Linked DNA regions of Homo sapiens. The protein of the gene in region 1 purifies or fractionates together with the protein of each later gene. This does not show direct contact. Each region holds a gene or a part of one and is shown on either strand. Other genes may lie near its edges.

Region 1 (4,451 bases):
AAGAAAAAAAAACTCCCCAAAACAAAGTTAAACTACAAAACAAGCTTGGAAAAAATATTTGCCAGGGATGATAGACAAAGGGTTAACTTCCCTCATGTTAAAAGACATTACATGTCAATAAGATCAATATTTTTCAATAAGAAAAACAAAAGGGAAAATGGGCAAATAACAGGAACAGAAATGTAAACCAATTATAGGACAAAAGTGCTCAAACTTAAAGAGTTAATTAAAGGAGATACTAATTTTACCTATTATACTGTTAGGGACTTCTTTTAAGGTCAGTATAGGGTTGGGGTGGGTTTAGGGGACTGGACACCACCATACACATTAGAAGAGGTACCCTCTTTGGGTGGTATCTGATAATATCAAAATTTAAACCACACATACTCTTTTATCCACATGCAAAAACTTGTCCATACACAAGAATATTAAGTAGAATTTGTAATTGCACAAACTGGAAATAACTGAAATGTCTATCAATAGGATGCTATGTAAGTGAGTTGTCATATTGTATAAAGGAACACTGTGCAGCTGTCAGAAAGAACAAGAAGAGTTATCTGTGCTGATACTTAAAAATCCCCAAGGGATAATGTTTAATGAAAACAAAAAGCAATCAAGCCACAGAATGTTAGGTAGAGCGTAGGCCCACCACATGCCCATTGTGTGAGGCAGGGAGAGGAGATACATATATGTGTATAAGTTAATGGGAATGACAGACAAGTAACTATTAACAGTGGTTGCCTTTGGGGAATGGGATTGGATTCAGGGAAAGAATTACTTTTCATTTTAAACCTTTCCGTAAAGTCTGTAATTCTTTATACCTGTATGTAGTTTTCACATATTACCCTTATTATTTTTAGCTAGTTTAAAATCGTTTTATATTCTGAACAAAGTTGAAGATATGGATATCTTAACATTTGAATTTACTCTTCTGGGGGAAAGGCATGTTTTGTAATCCCCAGTTTTCATTTTTTGTTGAGACAGGGTTTCCCTCTGTCACCCAGGCTGGAGTGCAGTGGCATGATCACAGCTCACTGCAGCCTTGACCTGCTGGACTCAAGCAATCTTTCCGTCTCAGCCTCCCCACCCTCCCAGCAGCTGGGACTACAGGCATGCACCACCACACCCAGCTAGTTTTTGTATTTTTGTAGAGATGAGGTTTCGCCATGTTGCCCAGGCTGGTCTCAAACTCCTGGGCTCAAGTGGTCTGCCCACTTTGGCCTCTCAAAGTGTTGGGATTACAGGTGTGAGCCACCATGCCCAACCATCAGTTTTATTTTCTAATAGAGGAAGTTCCTCAGGAAGAAAAGAACTTGGAGATAGGGTTTAGGGAAAATCATACAATCCTGTCTTGGCTCAATATCAGAGTAGTAAATAAAAAAGGACTGATTCTTATACCCAAATGCTGGGTTCTTATATGCTAAGACTGGGCACCAACTGGCACATTAGTAGATGTTTTGCTTACAGTGTTACTAATCTCCCAACACCGCTGCAAGGCAGGTAATTATTATCTCAGTTTTCCAGTGCCAAAAATCAATTGAACTCTTAAAGTTATCACATTCGTGATAGTCTTCCTTAGCTCCTGCCAAGCACCCACTCTCTGCTGGATATAACAAGGGAACTTTATTACATTTTCATTTAACCCTGTCAACAGTCCTCTAAAGTACATATCTTCATGTTAGGACAAAGAAACAGACTCAGAGAGATTAAGGAATTTGCCCAAAGTTACACAGCTAGTAGACATGGCTCTCTTTAATGCAAATGCAAATATTCCTTTTTTTTGAAACAGAGTCTTGCTCTGTCGCCCAGGCTGGTGTACAGTGGCATGATCTTGGCTAACTGCAGCCTCCACCTCCCAGGTTCAGTGACTCTCCTTGCCTCAGCCTCCCGAGTAGCTGGGTTTACAGGCACATGCTACCACGCCTGGCTAACTTTTATATTTTTAGTAGGGATGGGGTTTCACCATGTTGGCCGGGCTGGTGTCCAACTTCTGGCCTCAAGTGATCCACCCACCTTGGCCTCCCAAAGTGGTGGGATTACAGGTGTGAGCCACCGCGCCCAGCCAAATGCAAATGCAAATATTCTTACCACTGTACCACAGTGCTTGTTATTGGGGTTTTCATCTTTCTGATTTCAACATTGCTATCACTCTTGCTGGCTCTTCTTCCTCTACCCATCTCCTACCACTGGGGTTCCTTTCTTGGTGACACAGGATTTTTGCTCCTTAGCTCAGCTAGGTCCAGGTTCTTGTCTCACATTCAGGAAGAAATAGGCACGTGAACATGGAAGAGTGAGTGGAGTAGAATTTATCAAGCGAAACAGAAAGCTCTCAGCAAAAAGAGGGGTCCTGAAAACAGGTTGCTGGTTGCCCCCTTCGCAACTGAAAAGCTGATGGAGCTGGATTCCCTGTTTGTAAAGGCATGAATTCCTGGTGGCTCCACCCCATTCCCCCAGCGTGCATGTGGGGCCTTAGTGGGCTGCAGGCATGTTTAGGCAAGCCCCTGTGCAAGTTCCCTTATCTGCACAAAACATCTCATGTAACCATTTGTGGGACTGGTCAGAAGTTCTTCCGGGACCCTTCCCTACTGTCTGCCTAAAGCAAGCTGGCTAACTCCTTTCATTGGTTCATTTCACTTATATACACTCCCCAGCAATCTCATATACCTCCACAGTTCTCAAATACCACATATATACAGATGTTTCCAAATCTAAACATCTATCCCAGGTCTCTCTTCTGACCCCAAACCTTCATATCCAGCCGTCTACTCAACAGTCTCCTGGATTGCTCAGAGGCACCTCTTAACATATGTAAACCAGAGGGCAACACTGACCTCCCCAAACCTGCCTCTCCTCCTTTATGCTGCCCTATCCTATGAAGATTTTTTTTAAAATCAGGGCCGGGCACGGTAGCTCACGCCTGTAATCCCAGCACTTTGGGAGGCCTAGACAGGAGGATCACTTGAGCTCAGGAGTTCGAGACCAGCCTGGGCAATGCGGCGAAACTCTGTCTCTATAAAAAAAAAAATTAGCTGGGTGTAGTGGTGTGCACCTGTTGTCCCAGCTACTTGGGGGGCTGAGGCAGTAGGATTGCTTGAGCCCAGGAGGCAGAGGTTGCAGTGAGCTGAGACTGTGCCACTGCATTCCATCCTGGGTGACAGAGCCAGGCCCTGTCTCAAGAAATAATAAATGAATAAATAAATCAGGAAATTCCAATTTTTCTATTCGTAACATAGGTCTTACACTGACCCATATAATTTGGGGAAACTCCATCACTAAACTGAATTCTCTCTCTAAACTCTGCCTGAGGAGCCAAGACTAGGATAACTAGAGGAGGCCAAGAAGAGTGGTGCAGTTACCACAATTTTGTGAGGTGACTGTCTGGTCCCTTGCTCCTTACTCCCCTCAGAGGTAGATATGTAGAAAACTTCTGAAGATGTCCCCACACATAACATGTAATAACATCTATTGTGCCTGTACTTGATCAACATTTATAAAACTCCTCAATGAAAGCAGCAGTTGCTAATTCCTACAAAGAGTAATTTACATTTAGCATCCACTGACTGAATAAAATACCTAATGACAAAATGTTACCTTGAATTCAGTAATGATTTTAGATGAATCAGAATTTTCATTAATCATATCACGTACATATTTGTGAAAATGGCACAAAAATTTAAAACATGGTTATTCAGTCTCAAGGGTGTGCTTAGTGTGGAGTGACCCTCCTGCTCAGAACTCTACGGTTCTCTCACAGGTTTGCAAGGCAGTGCCAGAGAACAATTTTCAAAAAATAAATTAAAAAAGCAGAAATGAAAAAATCCTTGAAATGTTTTTTTTTTTCTTTCTTTCTCAGGGAGGGGCTTTCTATTTCATGGAGCATGTGGCAGCTGAGTGTTCGACTTGGAATTACTTCTGGCAACAAGTCCTGGATCCTGCCTGGCACCTTCTGTTTGATGGGTGCAACCTGACCAGAGAGAGCTGGAAGGCCCTGGAGCGGGCCAGCTTCTCTAAGCTGAAGCTGCAGCACATCCAGGCCCCACTGTCCTGGGAGTTGGTGCGCCCTCATATCTATGGATATGCTGTGAAATAGTGTGAGCTGGCAGTTAAGAGCTGAATGGCTCAAAGAATTTAAAGCTTCAGTTTTACATTTAAAATGCTAAGTGGGAGAAGAGAAACCTTTTTTTTGGGGGGCGGTTTTTTTGGTTTGTTGTTGGTTTTTTTTTTTTTTTTGGCGGGAAGAAAGAGTTTTGCTCTTGTTGCCCAGGCTGGAGTGCAATGACGTGATCTCCGCTCACTGCAACCTCCACCTCGCGGGTTTAAGCGATTCTTCTGCCTCAGCCTCCCTAGTAGCTGGGATTACAGGTGCCCACCACCATGCCCAGCTAATTTGTATTTTTAGTTGAGACAGGGTTTCACTACGTTGGCCAGGCTGGTCTTGAACTCCTGATCTC
Region 2 (4,476 bases), on another chromosome or scaffold:
CCAGGCTCAGCCTCCCAAGTGATCCTGCTGGCTCAGCCTCCCAAGTAAGTAGCTGGGACCACAGGGGCACACCACCACGTCCAGTTAATTTTTAAAATTTTTATAGAGATGGGGTCTCACTCTGTTGCCCAGCCTGGTCTCAAACTCCTGGGCTCAAGCGATCCTCCCACCTTAGCTTCCCAAGTAGCTAGGACCACAAGCCCATACCACAGCACCCAGCATTCCAAGTAGCTAGTAACTACTTGTTACTAGTAACCAAGCTAGTGACAAAATTTTAGATGGGCAAATAGCCAGCCAGCTGTAGACAACGTTTTCATTTCCCAGTCTCCTTTGAGGTTAGGTATGACCAGGTGTCTAAGTTCTCACCAACAGGACATGACCAAAAGTGATAAAGCAGACTTATCTTTCCCCTTCCTGTGAACTGAACCGCAACCATGTCGGCAACCCAGCTGTTACCACAGACAATGACCAGGACCTAGGGGCCACCAAGCAACAAAAACAGGAACCAGGCCGGGCGCAGCAGCTCACACATGTCATCGCAGCATTTTGGGAGGCCGAGGCGGTAGGATCACCTGAGGTCAGGAGTTCAAGGCCAGCCTGGCCAACATGGCGAAACCCCATCTCTACTGAAAACACAAAAACTAGCCGGGTGTGGTGGTGCACACCTGTAATCCCAGCTACTTGGGAGGCTGAAGCACAAGAATTGCTTGAACCCAGGAGGCGGAGGTTGCAGTGAGCCAAGATCATGCCACTGCACTCTAGCCTGGGCAACAAAGTGAGACTCTGTCTCAAGAAAAAAAAAAAAAAAAAAAAAGCAGGAACCTGGGTCCCTGAGTGACATCATGGAGCAGGGCCTCACCCCCTGGACCACCCACCTCCCTGCAGGGCTCAGCATACAAGGGAGAAATAAACTCCTACTCCACTTAGGTCATGAAATTTTTGGAGTCTTTGTGTGACAGCAGCTTGGCATGCCCAATTTAAGTCTAATTATTTTTTTTTTTTTGAGACGGAGTTTCACTCTTGTTGTCCAGGCTGGAGTACAATGGCGCAATCTCGGCTCACTGCAACCTCCACCTCCCAGGTTCAAGCAATTCTTCTGCCTCAGCCTCCCGAGTAGCTGGGATTACAGGCGTGTGCCACCACACCCGGCTAATTTTTGTACTTTTAGTAGAGATGGGGTTTCGCCATGTTGGCCAGGCTGGTCTCGAACTCCTGACTTCAGGTGATCCGCCCACCTCAGCCTCCCAAAGTGCTGGGATTACAGGCCTCGTGAGCCACCACGCCCAGCATTTTTTTTTTTTTTTTTTTTTTTTGATACAGAGTCTCATTCTGTCGCCCAGGCTGGAGTGCAGTGGCATGATCTCGGCTCACTGTGACCTCCACCTCCCAGGTTTAAGTGATCCTCCTGCCTCAGCCTCCCAAGTAGCTGGGATTACAGGTGCCCACCACCACGTCCAGCTAATTTTTGAATTTTCTTATTCCCGTGTAAGTGCTAGAACCAGAAGCTCACAGGGGAAGTGAGCTGCCCAAGGCCAGGTAGCTCACAGAACCAGATTCAACCCATGTCCACGGTGGGCTGTAAGCCACTCAGCTAGACAGACTCCCACCCTGCTGACCTGCACGTCAGGGGTGAGTGAGGTAGTTACAGTAAAATCACTGCTCCCCATAACCAAAGCCGGGGACCAAGAGAAACACACAGAAACAGAATGCCACACAGAGCCTGTGCTCACAAGCACACCAGATAGAGAGAGCCCACCAGACAGACACACAGTGCCAGAAAGGGAGGAGAGATGGGGACGGAGGATGAGTGGGCAAGCATGCACCAGAGAGCGAGAAAAAGGGAGACAGAGAGGGACAGGGAGGGACACGCAGCACTAAGCAGGAGAGGGGAGGGAAGGAAGGCGAGGAGGAACAAGAAGACGGGGAGCAGGAGTAGGAGAGAAAGAGACAAGGAAAAACACACGAGCTCTAGGCGTGAGAGGGAAGGAACAGGGGGAACTAGAAGAGGGGGAGCAGGAGGAGGAGAAGGAGGTGGAGGAAGAGAGAAACAGAGCCAGATGCAAAGGCTCAGAGAGAGATACTGAAAGATGGACACACAGGACAAATGTGCATCTGAGAGGAGGAAAAAACAGAAACAGACAACAGAGAACCTCAGCCAGGGCTCCAGGCGCTGCCTAGCTCCTACCTTGGATTTACGGTCAGAGATTGAGGTGTCTCCAGCTCCAGAGAGGTGAGGTGAACCTCGGCCCCGGCCCCTCCGGCCACGGCCCCCAGCTCCTCCTCCTCGAGGCTGCTCCCCGGGGCTGCCCTCCCAGCTGCGCGATGCTCGGCCCATGCCGGCCCGGCCTCCCTGCTGTGGAGGAGTCCGGCCCCCCTTGCTGGCCCCTGGGGGCCGAGGGGTCCCAGGAGACCTCCGGGAAGGACCCAGGTTCTTCTCCTGGAAGAGGGGAGATGGGGAAAATACAGTCACTGGGGCAGGGAGGCATGCGGCCAGGATGGAGGCCACCCACTGGTGCAGGACAGCTGGGGGCTCCTGGGTCCCAGGCCTCAACCCTCTGCCCCTCCCCATCCTCAGGGTCCCACACCCCAGTGACGAGCTCACCGACTCCACTGCCACGTTCTCCTTCTCCACTGAGCGGCCCTTTCGGGGAGCTGTGACTGCGACTCCCTCAAGTTCAGCTTTCTTACGGTCTTCCTCAATCTCCTAGGAGCAGACAGCCGGGGTAGGGAAGCATCAGGTGCCCTGTCTGCCAGACGGACTCCCAGACCCCTGAACTCCTCCTAAGTCTGGCCCCAGCCCAGGCCTCTCTCCTGGACTCTGAACAAGAAGGCCGCTCATATCCCTCAAACCTCAGCACGTTGCAGCCCCACTCAGAACGTTCCTGTGGTGCCCCTCTGAGTAACAGCCTTCCCCACAGCCTGTGGGACCCGTGGGGTCTGGCCTTGGTACCTCCCCGACCTCATCTCTCACCCTCTCCCCACGATCACTCCGGCTTCCTTGCTATTCCCACAACATACCAGGCTGAAACCTGCCTCAGGGGCTTTGCGCCAGCGGATCCCTCTGCCAGGAACACTTTTCCCAGAGACCCTCCAACCCCTCACCTCCTGTAGGTCTCTGCTCCAATGCTGCCTTCTCGTGAGGCCTTCCCTGAGCACCCTGTGGAAACCAGCTCCCCTGCCACCCTCTCTGTTCTCATCCCATTTGCACCCAGCACCATATGCGTCTCGCTCACTGTCTGCTTCCTCCACTACGGCAGAATCTGCCTGGGGACAGGAATGTCTGTCTGCTTTCAGTGATGTATGTCACTGACGTGTATCCCAAGTCTAGAACGCTGCCTGGCCCACAAGGGAAATTCAATATGCCTTTTTTAAAATGAATGAATACATGAAGAATGAATAAATGAAACCCATGCCACCTCCCAGATCCCATCTCAGGGAGAGCCACATCACCTACTCAGCAGCCTTGTCCTAAATCCTCCCTCTTCCTCCCCCTGCCCTGAACTGCCCATCAGTAACTGAGTCCCTCTCAACAGCCCTGCCCTGAGCCAGGTACCTCCTCTCCCACTAGGGTTCCAGCCCCAGCTTCCTCCTTGGTCTCTGGGCTCCAGTATCACCTCCTCGCACCCACCACCGCACAGCACCCAGAGGCGTCTTCCTAAAGAGCTGTTCTGACCGGTCCCACCCCTGCTCAAGGCTCTCCCTGGCTCCCCAGTGCCCTCAGGACAAAGTCCAAACTCATCCTGGTGGCATTCAGGGCCTAGCACAGCCTGGCCCCTGCTGACCTGCCCAGGTCAATTCTCTCCTAACCAACCCTCCAACTTGAAGCTCCAAGCTCTCTCTTGCTTCCAACATTTGCACAAACTGTTCTTTCTGCCTGAAACATGTTCCCCTCGCCTTTTCAACTGGCTATTGTCTACTCACCACTCAAGCCTCAGAGTCCACTCCTCCAGGAAGCCCTCCCTGATATCCCCAAGGCTGGGTCAAGAGCCTCCTCTGGACTCCCACAGACCCCTGAATTTCCTGATTCCAGACTTGTCTGCTCTGGGGCATCCCTGAGGACAGGGCTGTCTCCCTGACTAGACGGTGGACCCTGGAGGGGGCAGGCCTGGGTCTGTCTCAGTCACAGCTATATCCCCAGCACCACTCAGCACTGGGGCTGGTAAAGATCTTGGGGAATATTTGTGAACAAATGAATGAATGAATGAATAATGGAATGAAAGAAGGGATGTCAGGCTAAGGCCTTTGGCCTTTATCCTGACAGTGATGGGGAGCCATGAAAAGGTTTTAAGGAAGGGAGAGGTGAGAAAAACTCACTGCGGGGAAGAGAGGGGATGGGGTCTCCCAGGGCGGGGCTAGGGCACCTGGTAGCGCCGGATGAGGGCCTCATTCTTCCGCCGAAGAGCCTCGATCCTCTTGTCCAACTCAGCATCCTTCTCCTCCTTTGATTTCAAATCGAGTGTGGCTGCCTGAGACCGG

The links.
Region 2: the proteins of TMT1A (region 1) and CCDC9 purify together in Homo sapiens (affinity purification with mass spectrometry; one large-scale study listed by BioGRID and IntAct). This does not show direct contact.

The regions. Positions count from the first base shown.
Region 1 is NC_000012.12:50,926,061-50,930,511, forward strand, and holds part of TMT1A (thiol S-methyltransferase TMT1A precursor), read left to right. Parts: intron 1-3,853; coding exon 3,854-4,090; 3' UTR 4,091-4,451. UniProt on the Homo sapiens protein: Thiol S-methyltransferase that catalyzes the transfer of a methyl group from S-adenosyl-L-methionine to alkyl and phenolic thiol-containing acceptor substrates.
Region 2 is NC_000019.10:47,258,549-47,263,024, reverse strand, and holds part of CCDC9 (coiled-coil domain-containing protein 9), read right to left. Parts: intron 4,467-4,476; coding exon 4,362-4,466; exon of another isoform or gene 4,315-4,361; intron 2,705-4,314; coding exon 2,603-2,704; intron 2,438-2,602; coding exon 2,186-2,437; intron 1-2,185. UniProt on the Homo sapiens protein: Probable component of the exon junction complex (EJC), a multiprotein complex that associates immediately upstream of the exon-exon junction on mRNAs and serves as a positional landmark for the intron exon structure of genes and directs post-transcriptional processes in the cytoplasm such as mRNA export, nonsense-mediated mRNA decay (NMD) or translation.